Linked DNA regions of Homo sapiens. The protein of the gene in region 3 purifies or fractionates together with the protein of the main gene of each other region. This does not show direct contact. Each region holds a gene or a part of one and is shown on either strand. Other genes may lie near its edges.

Region 1 (3,500 bases), on a different chromosome or scaffold from region 3:
CCAGCCTGGAGACACAGCGAGACTCCGTCTCAAGAAAAAAAAAAAAAAAAAAAAAAAGGCAGCTGCAACTCAGGAACAGAGAACAGCCCCCCAGACACAAGGCTGACGGCCCACCAGGGAGAGGCTCTAAAACTTACCGTGAAGTCCGACGTCTCTATACTGCCCAGGGTGGGGCCCTTCTCCACCATGAAGCTCAGGAGCCCAGTCAGGATGGTGGAGACAGACCAGGCCGGGTTCCACGTGTCCGGGTGGAAATCCGTGATAGAAAGACACAGCCTGCAAAACGGGGGCCCCGTCAGTGCACACTCCCCACCGCAGCCAGAAAGCCTCCGCGGCCCCTCCAGGCACCTTACCTGGTGTTGCACTTAAACCTCCCGTTGGGAGTGATCATATAGATACTGGGAGGTTTGAAAGGAAATTCTCTGGGAAAAATTAGTTTTCCATGATAATAGCCACCTACATGGAAACAAAACAGAAAGGGCCTTGTCGTCCGCCACAGCAGGGGCTCCTGGAGACCTCGTCCCCATCCCCCCACGCCACCCCCCCCCCCCCCCTCAGCTCGGCTCCCGAGTCCTCATTGCACTCTCCGTCCCCAGCCGGCTCCCAGGCTCAGTCCCCCACTGACCTTGCTCTCCACTACCACCCACTGTCATGACCACCCAGACCCAATGCCCCTCCCCACCCCACCTGTACCCACCACCCGACTGGACCCAGACCCCCACTGCCCCGGGAGCTCGAGACAACCACAGCTACTGCACACCCCTCTCCCTGGAGTGTCCACACACACCCCCACCAGGAGCAGAGGGGTCGGAAGAGGCATGCAGGGCCTCCTTGCAACACCCCCAGCACAGCAGGAGCTCCAGGCCCAGCTGAGGCCGCCCCTCTCAGGACTCAGGTCCAGACCCAGCGACTCTCCAGCACCGTTTGCTTCCCCGACCCAACTGCACCCAAAGGCCAGCAAAACGCACCTCAAACACACCACTCTCCACCACACACCCCTCCAAGTTCTGCCAAATGCCCCCTGCCCTGACCTGATCCCCTGGATTCGGGCCTCATTCATGGCTCTTCACACGTCCTCCCCTCCCAAGCTCTCAAATCCACCTGACCAGGCTTTCTCCCTGCTCTACCAAACCTGACCTGAAGATCGACCTCAGGGTCACCCACACGTTCCCACTTTTTTTTGTTTTGTTTTGTTTTTTTTTTGAGACAGAATCTTGCTCTGTCGCCCAGGCTGGAGTGCAGTGGCTCGATCCTGGCTCACTGCAACCTCTGCCTCCCAGGTTCAAGTGATTATTCTGCCTCAGCCTCCTGAGTAGTTGGGACTATAGGCGCGCGCCACCACACCCAGCTAATTTTTTTTTTAATTTTAGTAGAGACGGGGTTTCACCGTGTTAGCCAGGATGGTCTCTATCTCCTGACCTCATGATCCGCCCGCCTCGGCCTCCCAAGGTGCTGGGATTATAGGCGTGAGCCACCTCCCCCAGCCATACCACTGGTTTCTGACCACCCAACGGCATAGCCTTATAAGGGGCCACTCCTGGCTCCGCCTCTCCAAAGCCCCACCCTGGTCTAGCTCCTCCACTCCCCACCCCCTCTTCCCACTCCAGCCAGCCCCTCTTCGCCCACCCAAGCACAGGGTGCTCTCCTCTCAGTCCTGGCATCCTCCTGGGGTCGCCCTAGTTTCACGGCCTCCCATCAGGAGCCCTGCAATGGCTGCTCAGCCACTTCCCCCACCCTGCACCCACGGGCCCTGTGCACACTCCAGGCCACTACACTGACCGTCCACAGCACAGCGCCCAGACGCCCCCATCCAGGACAGAAATCCGGCCACTTCCACCAAATGGCAACTTGGCAACTCCATCCTCCTGGTATCACACCCACTCCATGAGCAAATCCTGTTGGCCCCACCTTCAAATCAATCTAGAGCCGCACACCCTGTGTGGCTTCCCCTGGCCCTGCTCCCAGGCCCTCTATGAGCTGCCTCATGGCAGCCCCGCCCCAGCCCGAGGCCCACACGCTGGCTGCCCAGGCTGCACCTGGAGTTGGTTGGAAATTCAGAGCTTGGGGCCAACCCCAACCAGAGGACCACAAGTGCACAAGCCAGGACTCCCTGGCCACACCTGCATGCGTTGACGTGTGTGTGCATGCCATCAGGACGCGTGTGTGCGTGTCTGAGTGTGTGCATGCCATCAGGACGCACGTGTGTGCATGTGTGTGTGCATGCCATCAGGACGCACGTGTGTGCATGTGTGTGCATGCCATCAGGACGCACGTGTGTGCATGCCATCAGGACGCGTGTGTGCGTGTCTGAGTGTGTGCATGCCATCAGGACGCACTTGTGTGCATGTGTGTGTGTATGCCATCAGGACGCATGTATGTGCGTGTCTGCATGCCATCAGGACACGTGTGTGTGCATGTGTATGTGCATGCCATCAGGACGCGTGTGCACGTGCGTGCCATCAGGACGCATGGGCGTGGGCATGTGTGTGCGTGCCATCAGGACACGTGCATGCGTGTGTATGCGTGTGCATGCCATCAGGTTTGAGGAGCACTGGCCTCTGTCCTCCCTTGGGCTCCCTGTGCACAGCCCTGCCCCAATGCGAGTCCCCAAATCGCCACGGGCTCTTCTGCTCTAGACCCACCCTGTGTAGGATGCAGCACCCCTGCCCCTCGAGTGCTTTACATCTTGCAGGAACGCTCATCATCTTAGGCCGCCTCGGCATCCACTCTGAATCTAGGCTGGACTTTCTCTGACCAGAAGCGGGGCTGCCACCCGCAACAATTTTCAGTTCACATCCCCCTTCCTCGAGCTGATCCACCCAGACGCCCGCCCTACGCACTGTCCCCTGGTGACCACCCCCCATGTCCCCACGGACCCCACGCCCCACATGGACTGTGCAGCCACACCACGGAGTCCCCCACAGTCACAGCGTGGCCCCACGGGGCTCGTGCCCGCTTGTATTAAACCCACCAGTTAAAACTCCCCAAGGGAAACCTGTGTGCAGAACGCCCTGGACCCAATAAAGGGTCGGCCTGGGGGTTCCAGTCTCTCTCCACTTTCCCTGGCCTCCCTGCATGTGTGGCCTCCCGCACGTGTTTCCCTCGTGTCTCTCTCTTGATCACTAGGGGCTGCTCTCCCTCCCATAGATCCTAAATGAAAACACGGCTTCACTGTCTGCCTCCCCTGAAGACACACATGGCCAAGCAGGGGGACGCTGCAGCTTCCTCTCTGCACTCTGCTCAGGGCTGGCATTCGAGGACACGCAGGAACAGGGGTGGAGTCAACAGTGGAGGGACGGCATGAGCAAGTGCCACTGTCACCCATCCTGGCGTGCGGCCACATCCACCAGGGAGAGGCGAAGCCCAGGAATGACACCCAGAAGACACAAGAGATCATAAGGAAAGGCCAAACTGGAAAGTGAGTGAAAGAAACAGGCTTGCTTAAAAGAGGAAGCGGGAACAGCCAAAGCGAGGCTGGAACGATGTTTAGCTCGGTGCTA
Region 2 (4,108 bases), on a different chromosome or scaffold from region 3:
CAGGCTGGTCTTGAACTCCTGACCTCAAGTGATTAACCCACCTTGCCTCTCGAAGTGGTGGGATTACAGGCCTGAGCCACCGCACCCGGCCAACATGCTGTTTTAGTAAGTGTGATGTTAGGCCGGGCGCAGTGGCTCACGCCTGTCATCCCATCACTTCGGGAGGCTGAGGCGGGCGGATCACGAGGTCAGGAGTTTGAGACCAGCCTGGCCAACATAGTGCGACCCCGTCTCTACTGAAAAATACAAAAATTAGCCAGGAGTGGTGGCGCGTGCCTGTATTCCCAGCTACTCTAGAGGCTGAGGCAGGAGAATCGCTTGAACCCGGGAGGCGGAGGTTGCAGCCAGCCGAGATCGCGCCACTGCACACCAGCCTGGGTGACAGAGTGAGACTCCGTCTCAGAAAAAAGAAAAAGGTAGCTTTCCACCAGGCGCGATGGTTCACGCCTGTAATCCTGGTACTTTGGGAGACCAAGTTGGGGGCGGATGGCTTGAGCTCAGGAGTTCCAGACCAGCCTGGACAACGTAGTGAAACCCTGTCTTTACAAAAGAATACAAAAATTAGCCGGGTGTGGTGGTGCGCGCCTGTAGTCCCAGCTACCTGGGGGGCCGAGGTGGAGGATCACTTGAGTCCAGAAAGCGGAGGTTGCAATGAGCCAAGCACTCCGCTTGGAGGACTGAACTGCTGTCCTCCAAGGTTGGGTTGGGGAATGGGGTCTGGAGAGGTAGTTCTGAGGCCCCAGTTCCTTTCTCAAAAAAAAAAAAAAAAAAAAAAAAAGTCACTTAACTGATGCCTCTGCAGTGTAACTGCATATTTCTGGCTCTGGGAAAAGAGGCAAGAGTTCCAATCTCTACTCCTTGAACTCGGAAAGGGGCCTTTGGGTTTCTAAGCTCAGTGTCACATATAACAGATGCCTTCGTTAAAGCAGTGTTTATTTTATGTCTAATTTAAAGAGACAGGGTCTCACTATGTTGCGCAGGTTGGAGTACAGTGGCACAACCATGGCTCACTGCAGTCTCGAACTCCTGGACTCAAGGGATCCTACCCCTTCACCTTCCTGAGTATCTGGAACTACAGGCGCGCGCCACCCCGCCTGGCTTGAGTTTCGTTTTTAGCTAGAGTTGGCTGGCTCTCGGTATCGGCTAGTTTAAAAAGCGCAGAAACAGGAACCTGCATTTTCCAGCCTAAGGCCGACGCAGTTGCAAGAGACCCTGTAAGCGGGGCGATGTTCTGTATTAAGCCAGTGTCTGACTTCGTCGCTTCCGGTGGGCGCATAAACGTCATCAGACAGCGCCGGAAGTGCCCTCGTGCTGCCTAGGAGACAAGACGCGAGGCCGGCAGCGCCCACCCGGTCGCAATGGAGCTTCCCCTAGGGCGGTGCGATGATTCCCGCACCTGGGACGATGACTCGGACCCAGAGTCAGAGACAGACCCAGACGCGCAGGCCAAGGCCTACGTGGCCCGCGTTCTCAGTCCGCCAAAATCCGGGCTGGCGTTCTCGCGCCCCTCGCAGCTATCCACACCCGCCGCGTCCCCGAGCGCTTCGGAGCCTCGGGCCGCGTCCAGGGTTTCGGCCGTAAGTGAGCCGGGCCTTCTGAGCCTTCCCCCGGAGCTGCTGCTCGAGATCTGCTCCTACCTGGACGCCCGCCTCGTGCTCCACGTCCTGTCGCGGGTGTGCCACGCGCTCCGCGACCTCGTGTCTGACCATGTCACCTGGAGGCTACGCGCGCTACGCCGCGTACGCGCGCCCTACCCAGTGGTGGAAGGTGCGCGGGGCCGGGGGCCGGGGACCGGGGGCCGGGGGCGCCCGCCCAGGTCAGGCTTGGGGCGGGGAAGAGGTACATGGGGTGTTCCGGATGCAGCCTCTGGTGCAGGCTTCGTGGCTGTCCTGGCTCAGGCTGGAGGCTAAGGTAGTTACTGGTGGTGCCGAAGCCCCTGAGGACCTCTGGGTGGACCACGAGGCAGTCAGGCACTTGGGGTCCTGAGGCTGTGAAACCCTAACATGGGGCTGTGGTTCCTGGACGACTCAGGATCCAAATATCCTCAGTCTTGGGGTCTTGTGGTACTAAGCCACTGACCCCTGATTGGGGATTGACACAGGGACTTGAAGTCTTAGGCTCTGGAGTTTATGCTGGGGCTCAAAGTGAGCCCAAGGATCCTCAGGTTCTGAGTCCAGCTTAGAAGCTGAGACAGCACCTGTTGATGTCAAAACTCCTGAGCCCTAGAGCCTTGACCCAGTTAGGGGTGAGACAGTGGCTCTTGGCCCTGAGTTGATTGGTTCCTGAGGGAAGACAGCTTGGGACCTTTGAATCGATATTGTTGATCCTGATACAGCTGGATCCTCAGGCCCTTAAGCCAAGATGTATTACAGCTTGGGTGTTTGATACCCTTAACCTGGAAGCTTTGATTCTGCTTAGAGAGGAATCAGGATCACTCCGGGATCAGTGATTCTCAAGGTGTTGCCATCCAACCCCCAGGTCAGACTCTCCCAAACAGCTTAATAAACATAGATGCTTGGACCCCGTCCATATCACAGAATCTGCATCTGGGGCTTGCATTCTGCATCTTGACAAGGCTCCCTGGTTTCCAGATACTGTTTGAGAAACAGCCCCCTTGGTCTGGTTCAGATGGCTGAGGCAGGAAGGGTTAGTCATGAGGTCCCAGCTTCTATGCTGAGCCTGAGGTCAGACCTCAACATCCTGAGACTGCTCTGCCCTGAGTTTGGGTTGGGGGATGGCGCCTGGAGAGGTAGTTCTGAGACCCCAGTTCCCAATTTCTGGAAATTGGAGTGAGTAGTCCTAGACCTGCCTGGGAAATGGGCAGGCAGGTGGTCCCAAGACCACAGCCTGGGTCGGCTTGGGGTGGGAGTAGGGATCTCCATGGGGTTCTGTCCAAGTCTGGTGTAGTGTGGGCTCCCTGGAAGCCAGGGTTGGGCTTGGCCAGCTGGCATGGGTGCTAGGGTCCCTGCCCACTGGGCACCCTACTCGTGGTAACCCACAGAGAAGAACTTTGACTGGCCGGCAGCCTGCATTGCGCTGGAGCAGCACCTGTCCCGCTGGGCAGAGGATGGGCGCTGGGTCGAATACTTCTGCCTGGCCGAAGGCCACGTGGCTTCCGTTGACTCAGTGCTGCTGCTCCAGGTGAGACGGGGTCTGTGGGGGGCCAGGCAGGGTGGGCCAGGGTGGCCCTGACAACATCACCTTGCTCCCTTTCCAGGGTGGGTCACTCTGTCTGTCGGGCTCCCGAGATCGCAACGTCAACTTGTGGGACCTGCGGCAGCTGGGGACGGAGTCCAACCAGGTTCTGATCAAGACCTTAGGCACTAAGCGAAATAGTACCCATGAGGTGAGGAGTCAGGTGGGGATAGGAGGTATGAGGCCTGAGTAGGGCATCTTGGTTAAGGCCCCAGGTTTTGGTACAGGACCGCATAGATTTGAATCTGACTTTTCTAACCTTGGTGTGACTTTGAGTGAGATGTGTGACTTCTCTGTGCCTCAGTTTCTACTTCTGTCCAGTGGGTGATTAGGATGAGGATGAAGGAGATGCATTATGCATTAATGTGGACATGCATTAAGCTCAGGCTTTTTTTTTTTTTTTTTTTGAGACGGAGTCTCGTTCTGTCACCCAGGCTGGAGTGTGGCATGATCTCAGCTCACTGCAACCTCTGCTTCCCGGGTTCAAGCGGTTCTCCTGCCTCAGCCTCCTGAGTAGCTGGGACTACAGGTGCATGCCACCACACCTGTCTAATTTTTTTTTTTTTTTTTTGAGATGGAGTCTCACTCTGTTGCTAGGCTGGAGTGTAGTGATGCAATCTCGGCTCACTGCAACCTCTGCCTCCCAGGTTTAAGCAATTCTCCTGCCTCAGCCTCCTGAGTAGCTAGGACCACCATGCCCAGCTAATTTTTTTATTTTTGGTAGAGACAGGGTTTCACCATGTTGGTCAGGATGGTCTCGATCTCCAGACCTCGTGGTCTGCCCGCCTCAGCCTCCCAAAGTGCTGGGATTACAGGCATGAGTCACCTGGCCTTTATTTATTTATATTTTTATTGAGACAGAGTCTCCCTCTGTCACCCAGGCTGGAATGCAATGGCATGATCTCGGCCCACT
Region 3 (2,273 bases):
TTATGATTGGAAAACATTTGAAAAGGTACATCATCAAGTCTAAGTTGATTAAATTCAGTTTTCCTTCCTATTTCCTCAATAACTTTTTTTTGTATTTTCTCTAGAATGCACGTTATGAACCAGGATATAACAGTTCACATCCCACCATAGTGATGTTTTGGAAGGCTTTCCACAAATTGACTCTGGAAGAAAAGAAAAAATTCCTTGGTAAGTATTATATCAAGGAATAGATCTGTAATCGTATGTCTTTTTAATGGGATAAAAATTTCCTTTATGATAAGTACCATTTGCAACAGATCATAGTGTCAGAGCTACGCCTAGTCCAACTGAACATCCTCTGTGTCCCAACATCAAAAAACAAATGTTAATATCTATAAGCAATCTTTTCCCCTGTGATTTCATCCCTTCTTATTGCTTTTAAAGTTTTCGTTTCTTCATCCAAGCTAAATATCAAGCCTTCTTTCTGTAGCCCTGTCATCATTCACTTATTCAGCCTTTTTGGGATTAACTAAAATATTTTATTTGGCTAATTTTTACTGTTCCTATATTATTAATACTATATTTGCTATTACTGTACACAGCTATTTTATTTGTATCTTTAGGCTTAATGACTTTCTCATTTTCTATTTCCTTACTTTTGAGAAATATTTATCTTCTATTTTTATTTTTGTGGATAACATGTATGTTAGAAGATATTCAGACTTAATAGAAGCCCAACCTACCTTTCCAGTCTTAACTCCTAGAGGAAATTTTTGTCCCAACCAAATAATCCCATTGTCTGAACACTCCTGAGCTCACCTTGCACCTTCCCACCTCCAGGCCTTTCTGTGAAGTTCCTTCTCCTGCCTTGAACCTCACCTACCTCCTTGTTGCCTTTCTAAACCTTTCCATCCTTAAAGGTCCGGCATAATTCTGAACTCTTGGAAATCCCCTCAGTCATCCCAGCCTGGCTCTCTCTCCTTATTCTCAAGCATAGCATTGACTCAGGAGGCACTTAACTCCATGACACCTCTTCGGGCTGTCTTATACCTTACAGCTTTTCTCTTGCTATTATGTGTCTTTTTCTTCACAAGAATCTAATATTCCCAGTCAGACTTTAAGCTGCTTGAGGACAGTGACTATGTGTCAGACATTGTTCGAATACAATCCCCAATGCACTGTCAAATGTAGGACACTGCACATGGGCTCCAGTGAAGTTTTGTGAATAAATAGATTTTTTTCTCTGTAAAGAGATTTTGGTCTCCATGTAAAACAGATTGCCTAATTTTATTCTTCTTTTTAGTATTTCTTACAGGAACTGACAGACTACAAATGAAAGATTTAAATAATATGAAAATAACATTTTGCTGTCCTGAAAGTTGGAATGAAAGAGACCCTATAAGAGCACTGACATGTTTCAGTGTCCTCTTCCTCCCTAAATATTCTACAATGGAAACAGTTGAAGAAGCGCTTCAAGAAGCCATCAACAACAACAGAGGATTTGGCTGACCAGCTTGCTTGTCCAACAGCCTTATTTTGTTGTTGTTATCGTTGTTGTTGTTGTTGTTGTTGTTGTTTCTCTACTTTGTTTTGTTTTAGGCTTTTAGCAGCCTGAAGCCATGGTTTTTCATTTCTGTCTCTAGTGATAAGCAGGAAAGAGGGATGAAGAAGAGGGTTTACTGGCCGGTTAGAACCCGTGACTGTATTCTCTCCCTTGGATACCCCTATGCCTACATCATATTCCTTACCTCTTTTGGGAAATATTTTTCAAAAATAAAATAACCGAAAAATTAACATAAAAGTCTTATTCACTATTCAATGTGTTTACCAGCTCTTTTGGAATTGCTATCATTGCATGTAAGATATATCAATTATAATATAGATTAAGCTGTGTCTCTCACACAATGTTTGCATGACTTGGCCTGAAGGGATACTCTTTACCTTAGAAGTTTTTTTAAAAAACTTGTAATTATCTACCCAATATCTGTTCTCCCCTTCTTTCAGTACAGATTCCCTATATGGTAGGAGTGGCATTGTTCTCAGTCTTAAAATCATACATTTCCCAGCCTCTCTTCAAGGTAGGGACAGGTGGCAGTGGTGACAGTTATTGGGAGAAGCTTCTGAGGAAGCTTTTTTATTTAAATGCTGTTATGCTTTTAATGGAGTTAGGTACAAAATGCATCCAAGCAAAAGAATGTTGTACATACTCATTAACATAGTGATAAATGTAAATTACACTTTGATAATGTAAAATACAGTGTGTTAGGCCCCAAAAAGAAACTACAAAGTTAGCT
Region 4 (3,500 bases), on a different chromosome or scaffold from region 3:
GCAGGAGCGTGCCATCACACCTGGCTAATTTTAAAATTTCTGTAGAGATGGGGTCTCCCTGTGTTGCCCAGGCTGGTCTCGAACTCTTGGGCTCAAGTGATCCTCCCGCCTCAGCCTCCCAAAGTACTAGGATTACAGGCGTGAGCCACCACCAAGCCAATACTCACCATTTGAATCCCAACTTCAACTCATGACTTGCTCCACCTCCATTGCTTTTCATCAGCCATCCCCAATCCCAAACCTTACTCAAAATTCTCCTAGAAGTTTATTTATTTAACCCTGACGTTGCTCATCCAGTTTTGGCACTTAAAAATAACTTCAGCACTAAGAAATGAGTCTTATTATGAAGTACTCTACACATTTGGCTGGAAAAAAGTACGTCCAAGCCTTCATCAAACTGGAAGCTCCCTGAGCGTGTGGACTGCCTCTCCCAAAGGCATGGCATTCTCCAACAACAGAGTAGCTCTCTGAACTTCCTCTTGGGTAACCCTCAGCCACTTGTTCTTTAAAAGCAGGAACCACATCTTTCCTTCTTCTCTATCTCCCTCTGGTACCCAACACTGTACTCTGCCCCAAAGATGCCAACTACCCAAATGCCCGAAAGGAATACCAAGCAAGCCCGCTTGACACATACCGTAGGGGTTCAGGACAGGGACACTTTCCTTCCATCATGTCACAGACTGCAACTCTGATGGTCTCGTGCCGGATACATTCATTATAGTTTTTGCTGTCTCCTGGATGTCTCTCCTATAATGTAACAGATGCCAGAGTATTCCAAAAATTAAGCAAAAAGAAAACCAATGGGAAGGGACTTCAAGATTAGTATGGGGTATGTCAGCCAGTCACACAAACTAAAAAGATACCTTTCCCACTGTATGGCAGATCCATGAAGAGCAACCACACCTTTATTTTTGACACCATTCACCTCCACCACCCTCCAAATATACCAACAGGTTACAGGTCATTTGGCCTATCACCAGCAAACTAGATCCATCATATTTTCCTGAATGTGAAGTGAAAGGTCTATCAAGTAAAGATTATGTGGGAAATAACCAAACATAAGAATGATGGTAGGGTTGCTAAGCCTGGTGGCATAAACTAATAGTCCCAGCTACTCAGGAAGCCAAGGTGTGAGGATCACTTGAGCCCAAGAGTTTGGGTTCAGCCTAGACAACAAAGTAAGTTCCTGTTTTTTCAGTTTTTCTTTTTGGAGACAGGGTCTTTGCTGTTGCCCAGGCTGGAGTGCAGCGGCACCATCACAGCTAACTGCAGCCTTGACTTCCTGGGCTCCAGCAATCCTCAAACTCCTGGGCTCTAGCGATCCTCCCACCTCAGCCTCCTGAGTAGCTGGGACTAAAGACATTCGTCACCATGGTGGGCCCCGAGTTTTTATTTTTTATTATTTATTTGTTTTTTTGAGTTTTGCTCGTCACCCAGGCTGGAGTGCAATGGCACGATCTCAGCTCACTGCAACCTCCGCCTCCTGGGTTCAAGCGATTCTCCTGTCTCAAGCCTTCCAAGTAGCTGGGATTACAGGCGCCTGTCACCACGCCCAGCTAGTTTTTGTATTTTTTAGTAGAGACAGTGTTTCACCACGTTGGCCAGGCTGGTCCTGAACGCCTGACCTCAGGTAATCCACCTGCCTCAGCCTTCCAAAGCGCTGGGATTACAGGCATGAGCCACCGCACCCGGCTTGTCTTTTATTTAAAAAATTTTTAAGAGGCAGGCTCTTGCTTTGTCATCCAGGCTGGAGAGTGGTGGCATGATCAGAGGTTACTGCTGCCTCGAATTCCTGGGCTCAAGCGATGCTCCTCTCCTCAGCTTCCCAAGTAGCTGGGACTCAAGGCACATGTCACAATGCCCAGCTATTTTTTTAAAAAAGTTTTTCGGTAGAGACAAGGTCTCACTACGTTGCCCAGGCTGGGAAACACTTGTCTCTTTAGGGGGAGAAAAAAAAAAGACAGAAAGAATGATGGTGGGACAAAAAGGTATAAATGAAGTGAAGAGTCTCAGTGTAGAAAACCTTCAGGCATCAACAAGTAAAGGATGCTTCCTGGTTAACCCCTTTACCTGTTATATGTCTCTAGGGTCCCACCATCATTGAACCAATTATTATAAATCAGAAGTAGGGCTGGGCCCGATGGCTCATGCCTGTACTCCCGACACTTTGGGAAGCCGATGCAGGCGGATCGCTTGAGTTCAGGAGTTCAGGATCAGCATTGGCAACATGGTGAGATCCCGTCTCTATAAAAAATACAAAAATTAGCTGGGCATTGGTGGTGTGCACCTGTCGTCCCAGCTACTCAGAAGGCTGAGGTGAGAGGATGGCTAAAGCCCAGGAGTTCGAGGCTTCAGTGAGCTATGACTGTGCCACTGTACTCCAGCCTGGGTGACAAAGCAAGACTTTGTCTCAAAGAAATAGTACAATTAGAAATAAATCTATCAGAAGCTTCGAAAGATAAACTTCAACTTTGGTCTAGAAAGCCAATATAAACAGGGTCTCACTATGGTGTGAATAGAAGGGGAGTATGGCCTCTACTCCTTTAATTTTTCCTGTGCTCTTCTCCTCTTACCACCAACCCCAGTCAATTAGAGCCCTGGCCTCTGATAAAAATAGCTGATGGGCCAGGCGCGGTAGCTCACACCTGTAATCCCAGCACTTTGGGAGGCCGAGGCAGGTGGATCATAAGGTCAGGAGGTGGAGACCAGCCTGGCCAAAACAGTGAAACCCCGTCTCTACTAAAAATACAAAAATCAGCTGGGTGTGGTGGTGTGTGCCTGTAAATAAATAAAAAATAAATAAATAAATAAAATAAAAACAACTGCAAGTCATTCTGGAAGTAAAAAATAAAAAACACAAGGCTGGGCATGGTGGCTCACACCTGTAATCCCAGCACTTTGGGAGGCGGACGTGGGCAGACTGCTTGAGGCCATATGTTCAAGACAAGCCTGGCCAACAGGGCGAAACCCCATCTCTACTACAAATACAAAAATTAGCCAGGCGTCATGGTGTGTGCCTGTAATCCCAGCTACTTGGGAGGCTGAGGTACTAGAATCGCTTGAACCTGGGAGGCAGAGGTTGCAGTGAGCTGAGATCACACCACTGCACTCCAGCCTGGGTGACAGAGTGAGAGTCTGCCTCCAAAAAAAAAAAAAAAAAGACAAGACCTAAAAATCAGCTCCTGCTAATGAGGTCTATTTCAATTAGACTCTCCTCCTGAAATGAATGTTTGGAGAAAGGATGGGTTAGGAAATAATTTTTGTTAACTTTTGAGGCCAGACTCTGTGGCTCACACCTGTGATCCTACCACTTTGTGAGGCCGAGGCAGGCTGATCACCTAAGGTCAGGAGTTCAAGACCAGCTGGCCAACATGGTGAAACGCCACCTCTACTAAAAATACAAAAATTAGCCAGGCGTGGTGGTGTGCGCCTGTAGTCCCAGCTACTCAGGAGGCTGAGGCAGGAGAATTGCTTGACCCTGGGAGGTGGAGGCTGCAGTG

The links.
Region 1: the proteins of HERC5 (region 3) and UBE2J2 purify together in Homo sapiens (affinity purification with mass spectrometry, with the first as the bait; one study listed by BioGRID). This does not show direct contact.
Region 2: the proteins of HERC5 (region 3) and FBXW9 purify together in Homo sapiens (affinity purification with mass spectrometry, with the first as the bait; one study listed by BioGRID). This does not show direct contact.
Region 4: the proteins of HERC5 (region 3) and UBE2Z purify together in Homo sapiens (affinity purification with mass spectrometry, with the first as the bait; one study listed by BioGRID). This does not show direct contact.

The regions. Positions count from the first base shown.
Region 1 is NC_000001.11:1,256,855-1,260,354, forward strand, and holds part of UBE2J2 (ubiquitin-conjugating enzyme E2 J2), read right to left. Parts: intron 457-3,500; coding exon 354-456; intron 277-353; coding exon 138-276; intron 1-137. UniProt on the Homo sapiens protein: Catalyzes the covalent attachment of ubiquitin to other proteins. Seems to function in the selective degradation of misfolded membrane proteins from the endoplasmic reticulum (ERAD).
Region 2 is NC_000019.10:12,693,832-12,697,939, reverse strand, and holds the start of FBXW9 (F-box/WD repeat-containing protein 9), read left to right. Parts: upstream 1-1,308; 5' UTR 1,309-1,358; coding exon 1,359-1,767; intron 1,768-3,001; coding exon 3,002-3,141; intron 3,142-3,217; coding exon 3,218-3,346; intron 3,347-4,108. UniProt on the Homo sapiens protein: Substrate-recognition component of the SCF (SKP1-CUL1-F-box protein)-type E3 ubiquitin ligase complex.
Region 3 is NC_000004.12:88,504,391-88,506,663, forward strand, and holds the end of HERC5 (E3 ISG15--protein ligase HERC5), read left to right. Parts: coding exon 1-25; intron 26-104; coding exon 105-207; intron 208-1,282; coding exon 1,283-1,488; 3' UTR 1,489-1,773; downstream 1,774-2,273.
Region 4 is NC_000017.11:48,918,407-48,921,906, reverse strand, and holds part of UBE2Z (ubiquitin-conjugating enzyme E2 Z), read right to left. Parts: intron 748-3,500; coding exon 635-747; intron 1-634. UniProt on the Homo sapiens protein: Catalyzes the covalent attachment of ubiquitin to other proteins. Specific substrate for UBA6, not charged with ubiquitin by UBE1. May be involved in apoptosis regulation.